Linked DNA regions of Homo sapiens: region 1 is linked to region 2. The links come from fine-mapping of genetic effects on plasma protein levels. A gene starts in region 2. The other region holds a variant in brackets. All regions are shown on one strand. Distances are between the middles of the regions.

What was found. A credible set is the group of variants that fine-mapping cannot tell apart. PIP is the posterior inclusion probability: the model's chance that the variant is causal. The UK Biobank Pharma Proteomics Project read protein levels with antibody pairs (Olink). The fine-mapping took linkage between variants from a reference panel, not from the people measured, so its PIPs are less certain.
Region 1: its variant is the best candidate, but not a certain one, in a credible set for the plasma level of the INPP1 protein (UK Biobank, PIP 0.58).

The regions. Positions count from the first base shown.
Region 1 is chr2:190,353,585-190,356,493 of GRCh38, forward strand. All of the region lies in intron 2 of INPP1 (inositol polyphosphate-1-phosphatase), which reads left to right. Among named protein-coding and RNA genes, the nearest start is that of INPP1, 11 kb to the left of the region's middle. The variant G/T (reference allele first, on the strand shown) is at 1,540.
Region 2 is chr2:190,341,723-190,344,631 of GRCh38, forward strand. INPP1 (inositol polyphosphate-1-phosphatase) reads left to right here and starts at 1,867. Exons shown (of 7, transcript NM_001128928.2): 1 at 1,867-2,239. It overlaps LOC124906109 (serine/arginine repetitive matrix protein 1), which reads right to left. Exons shown (of 1, transcript XM_047446773.1): 1 at 1-2,909. The coding sequence starts at 2,594. The coding sequence ends at 1,716. RefSeq lists silencers at 1,853-2,162, 2,233-2,562.

The sequences.
Region 1 (2,909 bases), 12 kb after region 2:
TGATATTTTTCCAGAAATATCTCATTTGATCTTCACAACATCACTGCAAGGTAACTATTAATCTTTATATTAAAGGTAAAGAGAGAGTCTCAGAGAGGGTAAGAAAATACCTGATGCCACACAGCTAGTTAGTAGCAGAGTTATGTTTTGAACCCAGGCCTTTCTGATTCAAAAGCCTGTGTATTTTCCACTATATAGTTTATCCCATCTGAAATATGTCTAAATTATTCAGATAGGATTTTTAAACCTCTGATGTTCTGATAATGGCTGGAAATTTGAGATTTATCTTTGTGGAGAGGTTTGGGTTTCCAAGAAAAGTCTTAAGAACCTTTTTTCCTTCTGACATACTTCAATTCCTTTAGTAGCTCTCCAACTGGACTAGACAATCCTACAAAAGCAAAAGAGACCCTAATTCTATCTGACATTGTGACACAATTTTATGTTAAACATATAGATACGTACATTTGGTTTGAGATGGAAGGAATGAAACTTCTTTAAGCCCATTTTGCTGAAATGTGACTTGAAATAGATTGTTACAAAACAAGGCTTATGAGAGGTTCAGTGCTCACTGCAATATTAATTACTTGGCTGTTAAAGCGAATAGCTTTTAGTGGGAACGACTGCCTCACAGATGTTTCTTATTGACGACATAAATGGGGAGGAAAACACTATCCCATTTTCACTTTTGGCCAGAAAACAAAAGACAAAGGAATAGATTGTGTCAGCTAATAGATTGGGTCGCTAAGGTAACCACGGCCTGTCTTTCAGGAGAGGTTTTAGGGGCTAAATTATGTTACTTCAAAATTCACATGTTGAAGCCCCAACCCCCAGTACCTCAGAATGGGACTGTACTTGCAGATAGGACCTTTAAAGTTTATGTGAGGTCATACAGGCGGATCCTTATCCAGTCTGACTGGCGTCCTTGTAAGAAAAGGGAGACATGCCAGAGATTAACGCCCACGATGGAAAGGCCAGGTGAGGCCACAATGAGAGGGGCCGTCTGTGAGCCAAGGAGCAAAGCCTCAGGAGAAACCAGTCCTGCTGACACCTTGCTCTTGGACTTCCAGTCCCCAGAACTGTGAGAAAGTGCGATTTTATTGTTAAGCTACCCAGTCTTAACAAACTAACACCAGAAGAATTAGGTATTGGGCATGCCCCCTGCCATCAATGCCATGACAGTTAAGGGAGACATCAGTGGAACTTAATAGATGAGCTTTTACTACCCAGAAGGGTCCTTAACAGAGGCTGAAGATCAGCTGGAGAAAAGGTTTTTCTGAGAGTAAAAGGGAAGTCAAATAGTGACGTATAATGATCAAACCTAGTGACAGATATCAACTAGGGGTGTGTGTGTGTGTGTGTGTGCATTTTTTTTTTTTTTGCTATATAATGTACCTTATAATACTAATGTACTTATGATTATTATCCAACAATTACTGATTTTCCCTTATTTTAATAGTTAACAATTGATGAAAAGATTTCACTGGCTAGAGTACTGGTCAACAGTGGGGGCTTCTGCCAGCTTGCCTAGGTTTGAATCTT[G/T]TCCCACAACTTCCTAGCTCTGTGATTTTCAGTAAACAATCTCCTTGTGCCTCAGGTTCTTCATCTGTAAAATGGAGATAATAGTACCTACTTCCTAAGGTTATATAAGAATTAAATGAGTTAATACATGTAAGGTGCCTAGAAGGATGCCTGGCATATAGTAAGCACCTAGTAAATGTTAGCTGTTTCAATTTTAACCTATCTCTGCACAAGAATAACAGATAGCAAAACCATTGTACCTACATTGTTTCACCAAGATACCTGCCAGCAGGTGCCAGCTGCCACTAAAATTGCCAGCATAGAGGTAAAGAAAAATAAGCAACCTGGAGAACTGGAGCTATTAAATCTGTGTTTAGAGTTATACAGGTTGCTGACAAAAATACAGATTCCTAGGGCTTGTCTCCAGAGATTCTGATTCACTAAGCTGGGGTAGAGTCCAGCAATCTGTTTTTTTAGAAGGCCATCTTGGGTAATTCTGATACAGGTAACTCTCAGAACATCCATTGAGAAATACTAATCAAAAGGAATTTCTTCTATAGTCAAGGCTATTAAATTATGGTAAATGCCATAACTTACTAATCATAAGTCTATAATAATTTTTATTTAAAGTACAGTGTTGAAATAAAGTGGTCTTAGGTGAATGATGAGTATGTAAACTTACTTTTTAAAAAATCATCTACTTCATCACGCAGTTATCAAGCCTAGTACCCATTAGTGATGAAAGAATCTGTACAACAAACCCCATGACATGGGTTTAGCTATATAACAAACCTGCACATGTAACCCTGAACTTAGAATAAAAGTTGAAAAAATAAATAAATTAATTAAAAAATCATCTGAAAGATAATTTCCATGAGTTTTAATAAATGTATTGATAAAATGGAAGAATAAATTCTGCATTAGATGTAGCCTTCAGTTTCTCCATAGACAAATTATTTCAAGTTGAGCCATTCAAGGTTAGGATGAATTGTGCAATGCTTCCTTCAGGTTTGTGGCCTGCCTGTGTGAACTGAGTTGAGGATACATGGAGAGCCAGGGCCTTGGAGAAAGGGAAGTAGCTGAACAAATGCTGGGCTCATTAGCATGGCTGGTGAAAGTGGTTTCAATCTGAAACTGGGCAGTTCAACCTGGAACTTGACAAAATATGACAGTGTTGCCTAGGGCCAAAACGAAGAGTGAACTCTGGGATAACCTTGGAACTGAAAAACCTGATTATTGTGTTATGAGAAATTCCTAAAATCGGTAGACCTGTTCATTACAGGGCTGCAGTGAATAGCCAGTACTTCTTTCCCATTGGTCAAGTTGCTGTGCTCGCTAAGCAGCAACTGCTCAGGTCAGGTGAGAGTGGTCATTATTGAGGAAATAAAGGT
Region 2 (2,909 bases):
TATTATAGCAGCAAGAGAATACTCTCCCAGGCAAAAGCAATAACATGTATAAAGGTGCAAATGTATGAAATCTGTTTGCATATTCAGGGAACTAGATGTGGTGTAGTAAAATGAGGTGTAATATTCAAGGGGCAGAGTTGACAGATGCGAGGGGTGATGGGTCTTGAATGAGTTGTTCAGGAACTTGCTCTTGATATTATCAGAGATTGGGAGCCAATGAAAGCTTTTAAGCAAGCAAGAAACCCTGCAGATGTGTGGTAGCAAAGTGGAAAATGGACTAGATTCCGCCAGGTGCAGTGGCTCACGCCTGGAATCCTAGCACTTTGGGAGGCTGAGCTGGGCGGATCCCCTGAGGTCAGGAGTTCGAGACCAGCCTGGCCAACATGGTGAAACCTCGTCTCTACTAAAAATACAAAATTAGCTGGGCATAGTGGCAGTCACTTGTAATCCCAGTTACTAGGGAGGCTGAGGTGGGAGAATCGCTTGAACGAAGGAGGCAGAGGTTGCAGTGAGCCAAGATCATGCCACTGCACTCCAGCCTGGGCGACAGAGTGAGACTCTATCTTAAAAATAAAAAAAAAAGAAAAGAAAAGAAAAGAAAAATGGACTAGATTTATATCCCTTGCTCCACCCTGTCTTCCCCAAATTTAAATTCCTGCTTCCTAGAGGCAAATTCTTTCACCTTCTATGTCTCTGGTATTTATCTCCTTACTTTTAAGAATCATGTTTAAATTGTTTCTTGATTTTGCCATCATAGATATGATTATGAGGCTAATTAAACAGTAATCCTAACCGCTCTGAGAATGGACCTAAGAAATGAATGTGAGAAAGAAAGTAGAAGCAGCCCACTTGCTAGTGAGTGAAAGCCAGGGAAGGGTGGGGGGATGCGGGGAGAAATTGTCTCAAGTTGGAGAACCCAGGTGCAGGCTGGGAGCAGTACCATGAATTCCATTCAAGAAGCCAAACGTTTTAAGCACCATTTCCTGGAGTTTGCCAAGTTGAGTATTGACCCAGCCTCCTGTCTTGTTGGTTCCTCACTGCTGAAGAAGACCAAGTGTTGACAACTCAGTGAGGCAGTCTCAGCTGGAGTGGAAAAATGTAGCTAAGAAAACGTGCCAGACAAAGCTTTAAGCAGAGCTTCCCAACTGGATGCCGTGAAACGAATGACAGGGATGCAGATACAGCATGGGTCTTCCCAGCCCTCCAAGTGCAAGGGCTTCTGCAGGAAGCCTTCTGCAGGAGCAGCCTCTTCTGTTTACCCCCATTTTGACCCTTGTAATATCATCCTTTCCTACCTGTGCCAAGAAGTGAAAAGGTGTGTGAAGCGCCGCTTTAGAAGGCCCAGTACATTCACAAACATCAGCTTCTGGGCGAGGCTGCTTGGCCTCTTCTATTCAAAACTTTGTGTTGCCCTTTTAAGGTTTCTATTCCCCCCACCCCCACCCCGCCCACCAACACCCATTCCTACCTAGGTTCAACCCAAACCATCCTTAAGGTACACTGAGTATCACAGCACCAAAGGCTGGAGAGAGATAAGTTCCCCACCCTTGATGCGCTTCCTGTCCAGGTGGCCCGAGGCCCACTCCTTAAGAGGCAAGGCCCAGAGACACTGCTGTGTCTTGAGGAACATCCAGTACACCTGACATTTCCATTAGAACAGTGGGACCCGGATACCACTGGCAGGAAGTCCATCTTCACAGCTGCCAACCCATCTGTCAAACCCGCAGTCCCCTATGAGAGTACAGATGAATGGAGGAGGAAGATTTAAAAGTGAATTCGTGGGCGGCGACAAGGAAACAGCAGCCGTGGCCAAGCTGACCCCAGAGCCCTTCCCTTCCTGGCCCTCCCTCTGAATCATCGCGCTCCACTTGTGACGTCGCGGACGCCCGGCTCGGGCAGGCGTGGGGGGCCCGCGCGTCCCGGGAGCCCCGAGGCGGCAGCGCGCGTTTCCACGCCGCGGTCCCGCGGGAAAGCCGGGGGCGGCGGCCTGGCTGAGGCCAAGCTCGGATCCGGTGCCGAGCCAAGCGGGGCCGTGCGTCGCCGGGGCTTCGCCTTCGCTCGCGTGACCTCCGCCGTCCTCCCCAACCCTCGTCCTCTGGCCGCGCCTGCGGCCGCACGCCCAGCGCCCCTCGCCTAACCTCGCGCCCGGGCCGCGCCTCCTCCTCCTCCTGCTCCCCGCCGCTTCCGTTTCTCGAGGGAAAGGCTGCTGCCTCCTGCTCTGTCCTCATCCCCGGCTTAGGTAACACGTTTTCCTCCTTACGACACCCACCACAGGGTCCCCGCGCCGCTGCCCCTCCTCCTTGGATCTGGGGCCCGGGCTGGTGAGCGGCGCGCGCCGTCGCCTCTCCGCGGGTAGGTGAGTCGATGGCGCCGGGAGGGTTCCTCGCCTCTGCGCGCCGGCCTGCGAGGTCCCTGCCCCGGCAGCGAGGCCGCCCCCGGCCGGGCCCGGCCAGGCATGCCCGGCATCGCCGCTGCAGCCAGCGCGGAGGGGAGCTCGTGAGTCCCGCGGCGCCCTTGGCCCTGCCCGAGCGGCCCGATGGGGTTGGGGGGCGGGAAGAAAGGGTGGCAAACAACGATTTTAAAAATCCAGTCATTAGTATTTGTAGGACGAAGAAGCTGATCTGACAGTTGTCCAGAGCAGTGGCCCAGCTGCAACAGGTAGATGGCGCAGCTGTCAGTGACCCCTTGGTCTCAGCCTTGGCTTTGAGAGATGCATCTGAGTGTCCCTAGCTGCCAGCTACCTCCAGTGACCTACTTGATGAGTGTGAAATAAATATGATGGGACTATATTTAGAAAAATCTTTACTTCCTTGCTGTTAATTCTCTCTGCATTTTGAAAGGTGGTTTTGTGAGGTGTGCATAATTAGTTGGTGTGTCCAGAGTGGTAGCTGGAAAAAAATATTTAACCT